2 separate regions of the Homo sapiens genome follow, and region 2 is linked to region 1. A link means that fine-mapping ties the variant in region 1 to the expression of a gene that starts in the linked region. Tissue or cell type: whole blood. Region 1 holds a variant in brackets; the other region holds the start of a gene. All regions are shown on one strand. Distances are from middle to middle.

Region 1 (9,272 bases):
GCCCGAACTGGACTGCACAGGCCCCAGCCCTCACAGCCACAGAGAATTCTCTGCGGCAGGTTTGTCGACTCACTATGCAGACTGTCTCAGGGTGCAGGCCAGCAAAGGGCCAGCTGAGGCAGGGCCCAGGGAGCTCGTGGAGGCCCCCAGAGGCACCTCGGATGTGGCCATCCTGGGCCTCCCCAGCCCCTCCTACCCCCACCCACCCCTTGCTGGTGGAGATGCTCTGGAGAGCGCCTTCTCCACGAGGGCACTCTCTGGAATCCCTGGCCACGGAGAGGACACGAGGGTCTAGCTTTGGAGAAAGGCTCCATTGCCAATCAAGACACACAGAGGTGTCCTCTTTTTCCCCTGGTCAGCGCCCAGGTACATGGCACCAAGGCTGCGTAGTGACCTTGCCACCAGCCCAAGGACAAGTCAGTGGGATCAGAGAAGCGGCTCCGGAGCAGGACCTGCCTCTGGCTGCTAGGGTTTGGAGACAGAAAGTCCTGGCTGCTCCCAGCAGCTGAGGGGCTGCCGCCAGCCCCTAGAGCACCTGAGGGCCTGGGCCTAGAGCACAGACAGAGCTGGGGTGCCTGCCAGGCACCCCATCCAAAAGCAACCTCGTCGAGGACCAGAAGGGAAGCTCCTGTGTGGATCCCTACAGAAGCCAGGGACAAGACTCGGGGGCCTGTAGCTGAGCTGGCCCAGGGAGCCCTCAGCCCTCACAACCCTCCTTCCTCGGCCTACTCCCCATCCCCCAGGGATCTGGCTTGGGAAGGGTATGGCCCAGTGGGGAAGTGGCAGGTGGGGCCTCGAGCTTGGAAGTCAAAAGCTGTGTGGCTGTGTGATGCTGACCGAGTACCTTCCCTGCTCTCCGAGGAAGATTCTGGGTTTTGTTCACTGCTGTATCTTCAGTGCCCAACAGTGCCCGACACATAATATACGCTAAATACACAATGTGCTTAGGAACTAACAATCCTATTTCTTCAACCATGACAGAGACCAGAACCCTGCCCTGCACAGGCACCGTGTATTAAAAGAGGAAGCAGTGGGGCTGGGCGTGGTGGCTTATGCCTGTAATCCTAGCATTTGGGGAGGCCAAGGTGGGAGGATTGCCTGAGCCCAGGCGTTCAAGACCCCATCCTGGGCAATATACAGGGAGCCCATCTCTGCCAAATACTTTAAAAATTAGCCGAGTGTGGTGATGGTGCACCTGTGGTCCCAGCTACTTGGGAGGCTGAGTGGGGAGGATCGCTTGAACCTGGGAGGTTGAGGCTACAGTGAGCCATGACTGTGCCACTGTACTCCAGCCTGAGCAACAGCAAGACCCTGTCTCAAAATAAACGAAAATAAATAAAATTAAAATTAAGTAAAGTTAAAATTAAATTAACAAAATAAATTAATAAGAAGCAGGTGTCCATCTGTGAACTGCCCCTGGCCTTGCCTCCCCCCAACCCAAGTAAGGGGCTCAGCCCAAAGTGGGAGGCCCAGGGAAGGTGTCCCGCTCTCCAGGGCTCAGCACCTGCTCCTCCCCACACTGGGGTGAAGCTCCAGGGATCCACCCCCCAACACACAGCACCCTGCCAGCCTCTGCTGCCCGTCAGCACTCTCACCGCCGCAAGCAGGCCAGGTGAGGGTAGGCAGGTGAGGAAGCCAGGGCGGAGCCACAGGGCCTTGCCCGCTGTCACACACCAAGCTGGGGGCAGAGCCCTTACGAGTGTGGACCCAGGGCAGGATGTCTCAGAACAACACCCTGCCAGAAACAGACACACCTGGAGAGGCCACGAACCCCCAGAGCTGGGGGGAGGCCAGTGTTCTGAAGGAGAACAAACACTTCGGGCAGCACGCCTCCGTCCCTTCTCCAGGTGAGAACTGGGTGCGTCCAAGATAAACAATTATTTTTTCATTTAAAGCCAATTCCTCATGGGCCTCCGCTGCCACTGTGTTGCCAGCTTCCAACTAACTAAAGGAAAGTCAGAAAATGCAATGAACCAAAAATCAAGAAAAGACCAATTCAGGTTTCCACTATCATATGCCTATCAATCACCTGTCCCATGACTCACAGCCTAGGTCACAATAACCACTCAATGCCTTCTCGCTCTGTGCCAGACACATCTCATTGATTCCTCCATCACCAGACCCTCCTCAAATGTTCTATCTGTTATTCCCATCTTCCAAAGGGAATCTCAGGAGGCAATGTGCCTGAGGTCACTGTGGGTAAAGGACAGGGCAGGAGGCCGGGTGCAGTGGCTCACACCTGTAATCCCAGCACTTTGGGAGGCTGAGGCAGGTGGATCACTTGAGCTCAGGAGTTCGAAACCAGCCTGGACAATATGGAAAACCCCATCTCTACCAAAAATATAACATTTAGCTGGGCATAGTAGCATGTGCCTGTGGTCGCAGATACTTGGGAAGCTGAGGTGGAGGATCAATGGAGCCTGGGAAGTCAAGGCTGCAGTGAGTCATGATGGCGCCACTGCACTCCAGCCTAGGTGACAGAGACCCTGTCTCAAAAAATAAATAAAAATTTTAAAAGGATAGGGAAGGACAGGAACCCAGATCCGTGCTTCCTTGGAACCTGCGCTACTATGAGTTATTTAGTGAAGTGTAAAAAATGAGGACACTTCAGCTGGCTCTAGGAGCCAGTCTGGGCTGGGCACCCAGGCTCCCCCCACTGCCCGCCGCCATCCCTGCCCCGCCCTGTGCTGTGCTCCAGCCCCACCCCTGGTTTCCAGATCAGCGAACACAGCGTCCAGATGAAGCCGGTGGATAAGGACTGGGAATTTCTGGCGTTCTTTCTGGCTGTGCTGCCTGGCTCTGTGCCTGCGGAGCTGCCTCGGTTTCTGCCCTAGAACAAGGAAGGTTCGTTCCTGCATTTGAACCAGACAGACTGGTTTCTCCTGGTTCCTGAGCCCCCAGCCCAGTCCCCCAAGAGAGACCCTGCTCGGAACAGGGCACCCAACACAGGCCTCGCTGTGGGCATCTCTCTGGGTTAATATATTTAACAAATGTCTATGGAGAAGGGGCCAAGAAAGATCTCACTGGCAAGGTGATGATAAGCAAAGACCCAGGGAGGTGAGGGAGGGGCAGGGAGGGTGCCACGTGGGTATCTGAGAACAGAACTCTATGCCTTCACCCCTGGGCCCTGCAGGTCTCTCTTGCTTACATGTTCGTCTGTCCCCGTGTTTCTCTGGAGGTGTCTACATGAATATCTAACTGTCTCTCTCCTACACACACAGGCAAA[C/A]CACATCCTCCCCTCCTTCCCAGCTCTCTGAGGTCCCTGCCATGCCTCCCCAGACAGGTCCTGCAGATAAACAAAGGGAACTGTCTGGAAATCTCAAGGGCACAGGGCCTTTTTTTTTTTTTTTTTTTTTGCTTTTCTGAAAACCTGAATAATTTGGATTAGGAACTTTTTTTTACATATGAAGACTACAGTGTCAAAAACGACCTTTGCATCTTCAAAGAATTTCCAAACAATTGGGTAACGAAGAGATGTTTTTGTTAAAACCACCTGTGGCATCAGAGAGAAGATTCGTCACAAATGCCCAACCAAGAGGCACTCCTTGCTGCAGTGAAACCCTGTTATTACAGTTTCCCCAGAAGCTGCCAACACTGACAGCCAGACAGGCCAGGTTCCTGCAGGGTGCATGCCCTTCACTGACTCTGAGGGAAGTTTTTCCTCATCTCTTATTGTGGTTTGCAATGTGTTCCCCAAAATATGTTCAAGTTCTAACCCCTAGTACCTGGGAATGTGGCCTTATTTGAAAACAGGCTCTGGCCAGGCGCAGTGGCTCATACCTGTATTCCCAGCACTTTGGGAGCCTGAGGTGCATGATCAGTTAAGGACAGGAGTTTAAGACCAGCTTGGCCAATATGGAGAAACCCATCTCCAGTAAAAATACAAAAATTAGCCGGGCATGGTGGTGGGTGTCTGTAGTCCCAGCTACTCAGGAAGCTGAGGCAGAAGAATCACTTTGAACTCAGGAGGCAGAGGTTGCAGTGAACTGAGATTGCACCACTGCACTCCAGCCTGGGGGACAGAGTGGGACTCTGTCTCAGAAACAAAACAAAACAAAACAAAACAAGGCCTGGCATGGTGGATCATACCTGTAATCCCAGCACTTTGGGAGGCTGAGGCAGGTGGATCACCTAAGGTCAGGAGTTCAAGACCAGCCTGGCCAACGTGGTGAAACCCTGCCTCTACTAAAAATACAAAAAATTAGCCAGGCATGGTGGCATGTGCCTGTAATCCCAGCTACTTGGGAGAGGCAGGAGAATCGCTTGAACCTAGGAGACAGAGGTTGCAGTGAGCCGAGATCGCACCACTGCACTCCAGCCTGGGCAACAAGAGCGAAACTCCGTCTCAAAAAAAAAAAAAAAAGAAAGAAAGAAAGAAAAGAAAAGAAAATAGTGTTTGCAGACATGCTCGAGTTAAGGGGGGTTATACTGGATTGGGGGCATCTCTAATCCAATGACTGGTGTCCTTGCAAGAGAAATGTGGACACAGAGACCACAAGGGGAGACCATCGTGTGAAGACAGAGGCAGAGACGAGAGTGATGCATTTGTAAGCCAAGGCACACCAAGGCTTGCTGGTCACCACCAGAAGCCAGGAGGGGGACATGGGACAGACTCTCCCTCAGAGCCCCAGAAGAAAGCAACCCTGCCAACACTTTGATTTCAGTAACTGAGACAATATATTTCTGCCACCCAGTTTGTGGAACTTTGTTACGGCAGCCCCAGGAAATGAATAGGTTTTTCTCAGCTGCTCTCTGAATCTGTGGATGGGTGTCATGACCTTGTTCACCTGAGTGACACTGGCATTGGTTCTGTTGGAGGGGTGGCCTATCGACTCCTTGAATTCACGCTCTGGCCCTGCCAACTTAACTAGCTGTGTGACCTCAGGCAAGTGGCTTAGCCTCTCTGTGCCCTTGTCTTCATCTTCCTTCATCTTTGAAATGTATCTACCCCCTAGGGTGGTTTTGTTTTGTTTTGTTTTTGAGACAGGGTCTCACTTTGTCACCCAGGCTGGAGTGCAATGGCACTATTGCAGCTCACTGCAGCCTCGAACTCCTGGGCTCAAGTGATCCTCCCACCTCAGCCTCCCAAGTAGCTGGGACTACAGACATGCACCACCACTCCTAGCTATTTTTAATTTTTGTAGAGGTGGGGTCTCCCCATGTTGCCCAGGCTAGTCTAGAACTCCTAGGCTTAACTGATCCTCCTGCCTGGGCCCTAGGGTAGTTTTGAGCAAGGAACTTAGACCAGCAACCAGCATAGGCTTAATATTCAACATGGCCAGGTGTCATGATCACCCTGAGGGGTTAAGAACATGGGTTTTCAAGTCAGGCCCTGGGCCTACTTTCCTGCATTCGCCACGGTGTGTGAGGCTCCTCAGGAGGGTGAGGCCTCACTGAGAGAATGACAGTATCCACATTCAAGCACCAGGCACAGCCCAGGCAGAGATAAGGACCCACGTCAGTGCCAGCCCCACCCACCTGACAGATAAGGCGGTGGTGCTCCCACAGGAGGCCCCAGAAATCCAGCCCAGCCCTCAGATCTCCCTTGGAGCTGCACTCCCTCAGCTCCTCATAGGCTGAGGGGCCTTGGGCAGACCCCTTCACCCCCTGGCACAATGGAAGCAGGGAGGTTTGGCTTGCTGTTCTCTGAGATTTCCCGCAGAGGTCAACACTCCTGAACATGGGCCTCCTCCAGGGGCCCCAAAGGGAGGGGTTTGACCAACCCTATGGACTCTGAGCTGTCATGCAAAGATGGTCACCCCAACTCTTTTCACCCTCCTCACTTCCGGGGCAGCATCAGACCTTTGTGGGCTCACTGTGTGGCCTTGGGGGAGTCACCCAACCTTTCTGGTCTGTTTCCTCATCTGGCAAGTGAGGAAATTGGGGTACAGGGACCCTAGGGGGACACCTGCTCACCTCACAGGTGTGTCATGGAGATGAAACCATGTGAAAGAAAACATTAAAAGCCATAGCAGTCGTGAGCAGTCGTGAAGGCTATGAGACAGTCCGGGGCTGGGGGAGGGAAATCCCAGAGAGGGACGCCACGAGGCAGGAAGGCAGCCGGGGCCTAGAGGACACCAGGGCTCAAGCTCAGCAGCTGCCAGGGCTGGCAGGTCACAGGAATGACTACAGTGGGCCGGGGAGTCTCTGGAGTGGCTGCTGGGAATGCAGGCCTGGGGTGACCAAAGTTTCTAATTTTTCAAGAGACACTAGAAGTCTGGATTTTATATGGAAATCAGCTATTTATTTATTTATCTGATGGAGTCTCGCTTTGTTGCCCAGGCTGGAGTGCAGTGGCGCAATCTCGGCTCACTGCAACCTCTGCCTCCTGGGTTCAAGTCATTCTCCTGCCTCAGACTCCCAAATAGCTGGGATTACAGGTGCGTGCCACCACCATGCCCGGCTAATTTTTGTATTTTTGGTATAGACAGGGTTTCACCATGTTGCCCGGGCTGGTCTCAAACTCCTGACCTCAGATGATCCACCTGCCTTGGCCTCCCACAGTGCTGGCATTACAGGCGTGAGCCACTGCACCTGGCAAAAATCAGCTTTTTAAACATGGGTGACTGAACCAAAGGTTTTTAGAAACAACGTAACGGCCAAAGGGGCCAAGGCAGCAAATCCTTCCATGGCCCCCGAGTCCAAACACAGTCCCCGAGTCTATCCACAACCCCCTTTTCCAGCCCCCAAGTCCTTTACTGGCCCCTGAGTCATTCCCCAGCCCCCGAGTCCATCCCCAGCCCCCGAGTCCATCTCCAGCCCCCGAGTCCTTCCCCAGCCCCTGAGTCCATCCACAGCCCCCAAGTCCTTCCACAGCCCCCGAGTCCTTCCCCTGCCCCCAAGTCCATCCATGGCCCCTGAGTGCTTCCCAGGTCCCCGAGTCCTTCCCCAGCTCCGGCCTCTCTATTCCCACTGCTCCATCCAGGAAAACCACGCCCAGCATGGCAAAGCAAACCCTTCCTGGGGTCCCCCTCACTGGGGACACATCTGGGCAAGCCAAGGACACTCAGAACTCAGCCTGGCCAGGCTCGGTCCCCACCCCCGCTCTGGCCCTTCTCCCTACAGTGAAAGGGACTTTATGGGGACAAAAAGCCACCCATTGTATCACACGAGACAAAGGGGCAGGGGACAGAGGCTCCGGGCGCCTAAGCTGGCCACGACACAGCCACACACCACCCCCTGACTGTGTGAGAGGGAGGGCACCTTGGAATTCCCATGCCATGCATTCCAGCATTCGAGGATCCTGGAGTCATCCCCGCTCTCCAGGAAGGCGACAGCAGACTCGGAACCCAGCCCCAGATCCACTAGACCTGGGCAGTACTGAATAGCCCTAAGCTCTCTTTTCTCGTCGGAAAAATGGGCATGTAAGTTGCCAAACGGAGTCATTCAGTCATTAAACAAACTGTGCCAGGCGCTATTCTATGCCCTGGGAACACAGTGGGGAGCTTGGCAGCGAGGGTCGCCACCCCAGGCCACAGCCACCCCACCCCCACCTCCCGCGTGGACCCTGCTTCCTGGGGCTATGGCAGGAGGACGATGCTGGAGGTGGGGGCTCAGACCTGGTCCTCCTCCAAGGCGTTCATTGTATCGCTTGTTATTCCTGAGTCCTGGGTCTCAGAGCAGAGAGCATTTCAATGCCAAACGCAGAAGAAGTTGCAGCACACCTACCCCAGTGGCTGAGCTGAGCCGCCCCTGGACCCCCAGCAAGGTCCTGCAGCCCCCACGTGTACTTGCAGCCAAGGAGCCACTACCACCTCATCCTTGCTGTGAGGAGCCACTACCACCTTATCCTTGCTGTGAGGTCCCCGCTTAGGGCTTTAGAAAAGTCTTCCCACCCGGGCACGATGGCTCACACCTGTAATTCCAGCACTTTGGGAGGTCAAGGCAGGTGGATCACCTGAGGTCAGGCGTTCCAGACCAGCTTGGCCAACATGGTGAAACCCCGCCTCTAATAAAAATACAAAAAGTTAGCTGGGCGTGGTGGTGGGCACCTGTAATCCCAGCTACTCGGGAGGCTGAGGCAAGAGAATTGCTTGAACCTGGAAGGCAGAGGTTACAGTGAGCCAAGATGGCACCATTGCACTCCAGCCTGGGCAATAAGAGCAAAACTCTGTCTCAAAAATAAAAAAAGAAAAAAAAAAGAAAAGTCTTCCCAACCTGAACTGAAACTACCCCTACTTAATCCCTCCCCGTTCCCATCCTGCCCTCTGGTCAGATCAAGCAGGTCCTCCCTCCACAGGCCGCCCCCAGGTGTGTGAAGGCGGGTAGGGGCCTCTTCAGTGACACTCCAAGGCCCTCTCTGGCTCTCAGAGCAGGTGGCAGCACTCGCAGGTGGGATCTCAGAAACTCAGAGCTCCCTGCCTGCCAGTCCCCTCCTCTGCTTCCTCCCTCCTTCCCAGGGTCTCCTAGGCCTACCCCACAAAGCCTACCCAAGCCTCCCCAGCACCCAGGCCCCTCCAACCACACAGAGCATTCCCAGGAAGGCCTTACCCTCCTTGTGAAGTCCCAGGTGGAGCCCTGCATTCATTCCCTCCAACTCCTGCCCCCGCAACTACCCTGCCAGGCCCCCGCCAGGGCTTTACCCCCAGGGCCTTCCTCCTTCTGGGCCCAACCCTCTCAAGGGAAACACTTGACCCATTCCACTGATGAGGAAAACCGAGGCTCTTGGAAGATCTGGACCTGAACCAAGGTCATGCCTGGTAAGGGTTGGGACCTGGATAGTTCTGTGGCCCAGGCTCCCCTTCCCCTGTCACCCAGGATGTGGGGACATTCCCCTGGAGACTACTTTATTTGAAGAGAGCATCACTGCTCTTGAAGCCAGAGCTGAGAGGGGGCAGTGGCAGAACTCGAACCCAAGGCAGCTGGGATAACAAGAAGCTTATAGTCTCAGCACCCCAAGGCCACCTCATCCTTCCATCGGCCCCTCCAGAGAAAGAACCAGCTGCTGTTGGAAGTATATAGAGCCTCATCAGTCCCGTGCACCCTGGCCTCGGCCTGCTGGAGGAATTGGGGTGCTAAAGTGAGTGTCTTCCTCTCTCCCTGGACTTCCGGCAACACTGGTTCTACACCCAATGCTGGCACTGATGTTCTGGGTGACCTTGAGCAAGACTTGTCTGTCTCAACTTCAAGGAGGGGCCCATTGGCAGAGCACAGTGGCTCATACCTGCAATCCCAGCACTTTGGGAGGCCAAGGTAGGAGGAACGCTTGAGCCCAGGAATTTGAGACCAGCCTGGGCAACATAAGCAAGATCCCCATCTCTACAAAAAAACAA
Region 2 (8,000 bases), 22 kb before region 1:
TTTTGCTATTTATTCACTCAGAAGAATTCCTAGTGCCAACCCCCAATCAAAGGATTTTAAAAATGAGTATTAATGGAAAAACATTTAGTGTATTCAAGTCAATTTTTAGTTTTGCTACAAGTGGAAAAAGGCCATTCTGTATTCAGGAGAAAACGTTCTGATTTCCAAGAATATGGTTTAACAACCCAGGGATTAGGGGCTATATAGCATGATGGTTGAAATAGGCCCTTTGGAGTGGGACTGGACCCAGGTCCCACTAATGCTTGGTTTCCCAGTCTGTAAAATGGAGATACTACCCACCTCATACCGGTTTTTTGTTTTTGTAAGGTCTCAAATATTTCAAAAGGAGACAATGTATTTATAAATGTTTAGCACACTATCTGATACATCCTTGAGTGGGTACTTTTTATCTTTATCCCCATTTGTTCCTAGAGTCAGTAAGGTTGGTGAAATGGATTAAAAGATGGCCACAAATTATTTGACATCCCTCCCGTCAAGAAATGAGGTTTATGTCTACTTTCCTTAAATTTGGGTGGCTCTGGGTCTGCTTGATCAGTGGAACACAGTGGAAGGGCTATTGTGCCAGTTTCCAGTACCAGGTCTTTAAGTGACTGCCAGCTTACATTTCAGTGTCTTGAAACACTTGCTCTTGGACCCAGCACCATGGTGTGAGAAAACCCAAGAATCCCCTGAATCCTATAGATGGAGAGGAACTGAAACCCCCCAAACCCCGGCCCCAGTTCTCTGGCCAATGTCCACAACTGAGAGCCAAGAGCCAACACTAATTTGCCAGCCATGTGAGTAAACTCCTTGGAGGAAGCTCCTCTAGTCCATTCCAGCTGCCCCCAGCCGACACCAACTGGAATAGAGACTAGCTGGCCCTGCCCAAATTACAGATTAGTGAGCAAAATGGTGGTTTTAAGCCACTAAATTTTCAGGTGGTTTGTAACAGCAATAGATAACCAGAACAGATTAAATCAAGGTGTGTTCCTCCTCCACTCCATCAATGACTTAGGAAGGGTAGGCAAATTCATTTTGTCCAGAAATGTGTGGTATATAGAGAAAGTAGGTCATGAAGAAACTCTCTGAGTTTGCTGTAAGCTGTGTGACCAGGGCTTGACTAAACAACTCAGTCCAGTAATTCAGCAAATCTTTTTAAATGCCTATCTTCCACTTGGTGCTAAACAGAGTAACTCATAATTGATGTCACCTGACCGGGTGCGGTGGCTCACGCCTGTAATCCCAACACTTTGGGAGGCCGAGGCGGGCAGACCACCAGAGGTCAGGAGTTCGAGACCACGCTGGCCAACATGGTGAAGCCCTGTCTCTACTAAAAATACAAAAATTAGCCGGGTGTGGTGGCACGCGCCTGTAATCCCAGCTACTTAGGAGGCTGAGGCAGGAGAATCCCTTAAACCCGGGAGGCAGAGATTGCAGTGAGCCGAGATTGCGCCACTGCACTCCAGCCTGGGCAACAGAGCAAGACTCCCTCTCAAAAAATAAATAGGCCGAGCGCAGTGGCTCACGCCTGTAATCCCAGCACTTTGGGAGGCCAAGGCGGGCGGATCACCTGAGGTCGGGAGTTCAAGACCAGCCTGACCAACATAGAGAAACCCCATCTCTACTAAAAACACAAAAAAATTAGGCATGGTGGCGCATGACTGTAATCCTAGCTACGCGGGAGGCTGAGGCAGGAGAATCGCTTGAAACCGGTAGGCGGAGGTTGTGTTGAGCCGAGATTGCACCATTGCACTCTAGCCCGGGCAGTAAGAGCGAAACTCCATCTCAATAAATAAATAAATTAGTAATAATTTATGTCACCTTGGTCACAGCTGTCACACCCGACTGTGTCTTTGTAACCATCTTTGTTTCAGATCCCACGGATATCTATTTTAAGTCCATTCAAAGATGTCTGCTAGGCCGGTTGTGGTGGCTCACACCTGTAATCCTAGCCCTTTTGGAGGCCAAGGTAGGTGGATCATCTGAGGTCAGGAGTTCGAGACCAGCCTGGCCAACATGGTGAAACCCTGTCTCTACTAAAAATTCAAAAATAGCCGGGCATAGTGGCACGTACTTGTAATCCTAGCTACTCGGGAGGCTGAGGCACGAGAATCGCTTGAACCTGGGAGGCGGAAGTTGTAGCCAGCCGAGATCGTGCCACTGCCCTCCAGCCTGGGCGACAGAGCAAGACTCCGTCTCAAAAAAATAAAAAATGTCTGCTAACCCATTCTGACTGGCCACCTGACCCTCAGTTCATACCTTAAACCCCTCTAGTTCCTCTAGTCATATACCACACTTTGGCCATAAGGTATCATGCAACTAAAGAGACACAATGCTTAGTTGTCCAATCAAGAGAAATCAGCTCAAACGAATCCTTTTTCAAAGTTTGGCAGTTTTGAAGAGGCCTTTTCCTGAAAGGTATCTGATTCCTGATTGCGTGGCTCAAAATAGTTCTTCAATTCTCATCTTGTATAATTAGTCAAGAAACCAATTACTGCCGAGTAATCTTTATGATGCGAAGATTATAACGTAAATTACAGGACATCGACTTCTTGCGATGGGGCTTTCCTTCCACGAGGGGTAGGAACTGTCTTGAAATCAGACGTCAGCATCACCTGGTTCAAGGGATAAGGGACTGGCTCTCCAGCGACTTGGCAACTTACAAGCGCTCTTTAAACACGCCTTAAACTACTTATTTAATCCTCCACACTCAGGGAGGCGCAATTTATTCTCGAGTTGCGAGTGAGGAAATTCTGGCTCGTGGCTTCGATTCCTTCATCCGTACAATGGGGGCGACTTGAGACGGAGTTCCCACACAACGGGTGCTCGCCGAAGCGCCGCATCCCTCCGCACTCCCTTCCGGGACTTCCTCTCCCTGTCTTGCCCCGCCCCGGCATCGGTAACGCTCGCCTGTGATTGGATGCCGGCCGGCCGTGAGGCGGTGGAAGGGGTTGCGGTGGCCATGGTGACAGGAGGCGGGGCGCCGCGCCCCTCCGGCAGTCACCGAGGCCCGGACCTGCGGCGTCGGCGGCGCGCGCAGAGGGCCAGGCGGGCGTAGAGGCCGGACCGACGCGTGGCGGCAGAGGGTATCCAAGGCCGGACCTGGCGCGCAGGCGCTGACCCGACCTGGCAGTGAGCTGGCCGCGGCCTTGGCTGAGAGGCCTTAACCCCGCCGGGCGGCCGCGCCCTGCATGCGAGTTGGGCCGCGGGCGGGGTTGGAGCCTACTCGGGGCGACTGCGATGGACGCCTTAGAAGGAGAGAGCTTTGCGCTGTCTTTGTGAGTAGCTCCTCCAGGGCGCAGGCGACTTGGGGCCGGAGGCAGCGGGCGTTCGCCCCGGGGCCTGACCCTATAAAACAGGTGTCCTTAGGGGCCGGGCCGGGCCGGGCCGGGCAGGGTGGGGGCCGCCAAGGCGCCGTCCCAGCTCCAGGCCTTCCTTTTGTAGAGTACTAAGGCTGCAGGTTTCAGGCCCCGCAGGACAGGAGTGCGAGGCGGGTGTCACCGTTGATCAGCGCCTCCATCACAATCCCCAGCCGCCAACCCTCAGCTGTCAGCAAAGCCTGGAGGGGTTGAGCGCCCGAGGCCCCTCCACCCCTCCCTGGCCCCCGCCTCCCGGACTCCTGACCAAATGACCCCCCCCGGCAGGTGTTTCGCCCGTGCCGGGTTCATGCTCACAAGCAGACAGGTATGGGGTGATAGCTAAGAGCCTGGAGAACAAGTTTTTATTAAAGTGGAGTCATGACATTGAACGTTCATGTCACAAACGTGCCGAGTGTGTTTTCTTCTGTTTGGACTTACTAGATCAGTCAGTCATTCTTAATCGTTGAAGATGGGTGATGGGAAGTTCGTTTTGCTACTCTTTTTTCTCTTGTGCATGTTTGAAAACGTCCATACTAAAAACATTTTTTTAATGCATTATTTGAAATAGCACCTAATCCAGGCATGTTTTTCAGCTCCTCCGCCTCTGATGCAGAATTTGATGCTGTGGTTGGATATTTAGAGGACATTATCATGGGTAAGCTTTTAAGATACTGTTTTTAAGGACTTGCTTGTTTCTTTAAGGACATTGAAATCAATTTGGAGAGTTAATTTTAAAAAGAGAAAACATCAAGCTGCCTGCAATTTTTAATGTAGCACAATGTAATACTTAAGTAAAGGCTTACTGCAGTTTGTCTTAGAAACAAACAGCCCAGTACTCCTGAAAACATCTAATAAGCATAGATTCAGAGGCTGGAAGGGACTGACTCAGGCTAATAGGGCACCAGCAGTGTGGCGTTCTTCGCAAAACTATAGGAAATAATGATCTACTCTATTTCTTATGTAGGGTAAGAGCAATTTCAATTTTAGATAGTTTTGAGTTTTAACATTTTCATGCCATAAAACACATAAAACCAGGCCAGGTGCGGTGGCTAACGCCTGTAATCCCAGCACTTTGGGAGGCCGAGGTGGGCGGATCACGAGGTCAGGAGATCAAGACCATCCTGGCTAACACGGTGAAACCCTGTCTCTACTAAAAATACAAAAAAAATTAGCCGGGCGTGGTAGCGGGCGCCTGTAGTCCCAGCTACTCAGGAGGCTGAGGCAGGAAAATGGCGTGAACCTGGGAGGTGGAGCTTGCAGTGATCCGAGATCGTGCCACTTCACTCCAGCCTGGGCGACAGAGCGAGACTCCGTCTGGAAAAAATAAAAATGAAAATAAACACATAAAACCATAACCATAAGCACACATGGCCATAAAGAAAACAAGGTATTAAGCTTCAGCTGGTTCTGTATTTTCCTAGGTTTTGAGTTCCTACTTGTGGATGTATTTGGGCATCCATGAAACCTGCTAAGTAACAGAGAAGCAGTAACAGTCCCCAGAGGTTTAAGACAAGTATGTAGGAGGGGAAAACTTACATTTGAGAAAATTCTGTTGACTTTAAGTTTTATGAGAATTGAGAAAAGAACACTGTTATTTGGTGTTATTGGCTGTATGGCTTAATCCATTTAGAATGAAAATTACTGACCAAGTTTTTATACCTTCAGGTATAAAGGTTCATGCCCTTAACTCCTGAATATAGATGTTTCATCATTAAGCTCGTTTCCCATGTGGACTTGGGGATTTCTGGGGAATACTGAAGAATCCATTCAGTTCTCTTGCCTATTATACCCTATATGCTATGGGAAAATGAGCCTTCTGTGAGCCTACGGTATTTATCCCAAAGTCTGGGTCCTTTCTGAAACTTTCCTTTTATTTTTAGAAATAATCTATTCAGTTGTTAAAATTCCTTATTCCGGGATGGGTACGGTGGCTCACACCTATAACCCCAACACTTTGGGAGGCCAGCGCAGGTGGATTGCTTGAGTCTAGGAGTTCGAGACCAGCCTAGGCACCATAGGGAGAACCCTGTCTCAATTAAAAAAAAAAAATTCCCTATTCCCTATCATTTATTAAGTGTTCACTATGAACTAATCTATTTACATGAATTCTCATCTAAATTCCACTTCCAATCCTATATGATAACTACCATAAACCATTCTTATTTTCCAGATAAATGTGTTTATATGGGGGTTAGAGAAATTAAGTAACTTACCCAAGGTCACACAATTAGTAAGTAGCTGAGATGCGATTCGAACCCAGACGGGCTAGCCTCTTTCAGACCCCATAATTTTAATCACTACACTGTTTCCACAACTGCTGTGGAAGTTATATCAAAATAAGAGAGAACCAATTCATTCCTTTTCAGAAAAGTAATGTCAGGGAGTTCCCAAGCCACCCTGTGTGGATATGGTTAAAATGGACTGAAGGATGGTGGTGATCATTGCACAACAATGTAAACATACTTAAAGCCACTGAGCTGTGTGCTTAAACATTAAAATGATAAAAAAAAATTGTATATCTCACCACAATTTAAAAAGAAAACAGGGCTGGGTGCGGTGGCTCACACCTGTAATCCCAGCACTTTGGGAGGCGGAGGCAGGCAGATCACCTGAGGTCGGGAGTTCGAGATCAGCCTAGCCAACATGATGAAACCCTGTCTCTACTAAAAATACAAAATTAGGCTGGCGAGGTGGCACACACCTGTAATCCCAGCTACTCAGGAGGCTAAGGCAGTAGAATCTTTTGAACCCTGGAGGTGGAGGTTGCAGTGAACCGAGATCGCACCATTGCACTCCAGCCTGGGCAACAAGAGAAACTCCAGCTCAAAAAAAAAAAAAAAAAAAAAAAAAGAAAGAAAGAAAAAGAAAACAGGAGGATTGGGCTATTTCCACATCAGGGTCCCATTTAATACCCCCTTAAAACATCAGCTTTCCTTCCAGAGACTGATCATTGAGAAAGCAGTACTGCTGACATAGATCCTGCCTACTTATAAATCATAATGGTTGGTAATCTCCATTAAAAAGAATAAATTTTCCCCACTGTGGTTCAGATGACGAGTTCCAGTTATTACAGAGAAATTTCATGGACAAGTACTACCTGGAGTTTGAAGACACAGAAGAGAATAAACTCATCTACACACCTATTTTTAATGAATACGTAAGTAGATTTCTATGTCTCCTACCAGGAGGTCAGAGTTTTTAAAAATTTAAATTTAGATTCAAAAGACATTGAAATTTGCTGCCTTTTAAAATATGCCACCAGTACACTTCCAGGAATCCTCATTAGCATCTGGTTTAAGTTCATTTTCCTCTGCACAGCCTTTGGGGCTATTTTCCAAAAGGCTTTCAGGCAAATATTTGATTAACTCATCAGCTTCTTATTTAAAAGAAGTTTGACCTGGGCTTGGTAGCACACCTGTAGTGCCAGCTATTTGGGAGGTTGAGGTGGAAGAATCACTTGAGCTTAGGAGTTTGAGACCAGCCTGGGCAACACAGCAAGATCTCTGTCTCTAAAAAAAAAATGATAATAATAAAGATAATAAATAAAAGACGTTTGGCTTATCATAATCCTGCTTTTAATCACAGTACATGAGTTCTTCATACCTTGCATTTGCATGCTTTTGACAAACCTTTCTGCTTTCACATACTCTTTCTTTCTTCTATATAATCCAGTCATATATGCATGACTATTAAGTAAAAGTGAAAACTGAGACCAAGATCACTAACTATTTGGTGGAAAAACCAAGACTGGAACCCAGGAACCTCAGCTCGTCACCCTTGGGTCTCTACACTTTACCCTGAGGCCTCTTAACAGCCCCCTGGGATTCTGTCATCTAAGAATCCATTTTGGCCTCCAGGACTTTATTTTCTTAACACAGAAGCATGGCATAAACAAACCTGCCCAGAAGGAACCTGTGACTGCCTCCATGTCCGTATGTTCTGTTACACAGATGCCCTCTACCCAGGAGGCAAAGCCCCCACTTACTGCATCCTGCACTGGGTTGTGGGTGTGGGTACCGTGCTACTCACTGTCTCCACCTGTGTCAGAGCATCCACCCTGTTACAGCACCATTATCAGCTAAGGCTTCTCTTCCACACCAGGCTGAGTACTTCTCCAGGACAGGAGCTGTGTTTTGGTCCTCTTTGGTATCCTTGGCACTCAGTGTAGATTGTGGCACACAGACCTCAGGAAATGTTTAGAAAGGGCTGGGCAGGCTTTCTGAAAAGAAGTCTTGTTTTCCCAAAGTATGGTCTCACCAAAATCCTTTCCACTGTTGCAGATTTCTTTGGTAGAAAAATACATTGAAGAACAGCTGCTGCAGCGGATTCCTGAGTTCAACATGGCAGCCTTCACCACAACATTACAGTGAGTTGAGCTTGACTGATTTTTGTGTTTTGTTTTGTTTTCTCACTTTCTTCCTTCCCTAGGCTGACCAAAAGACGCTCCTTGTTTGTTTTCCTGTGCATGCCGTTGGTGGTTAGGTCCTATGGAGGAAGCCCTCAAACCTTTTAATGAAATCTTGAAAAGATCAGGCATTGGCTCACGCTTGTGTTCTCAGTGCTTTGGGAGGCCAAGGGAGGAGGATCACTTGAGCCCAGGAGTTCAAGACCAGCCTGGGTGACATAGTGAGGCCCCGACCC

What was found. PIP is the estimated chance that this variant, and not a neighbour inherited with it, causes the effect.
Region 2: ARL2BP starts here. The variant in region 1 is fine-mapped to the expression of ARL2BP in whole blood (TOPMed, PIP above 0.99). The same link has a PIP of 0.9 or more in T cells.

Annotation. Positions count from the first base shown.
Region 1 is chr16:57,263,529-57,272,800 of GRCh38, forward strand. The region is part of intron 1 of PLLP (plasmolipin); the gene reads right to left. Among named protein-coding and RNA genes, the nearest start is that of PLLP, 17 kb to the right of the region's middle. RefSeq lists an enhancer at 1-626. The variant C/A (reference allele first, on the strand shown) is at 3,227.
Region 2 is chr16:57,242,128-57,250,127 of GRCh38, forward strand. ARL2BP (ARF like GTPase 2 binding protein) reads left to right here and starts at 3,132. Exons shown (of 6, transcript NM_012106.4): 1 at 3,132-3,278; 2 at 3,953-4,014; 3 at 6,410-6,516; 4 at 7,640-7,725. The coding sequence starts at 3,241. It overlaps LOC124903697 (a long non-coding RNA gene), which reads right to left. Exons shown (of 2, transcript XR_007065082.1): 2 at 3,688-7,844. RefSeq lists silencers at 2,851-3,230, 3,321-3,530.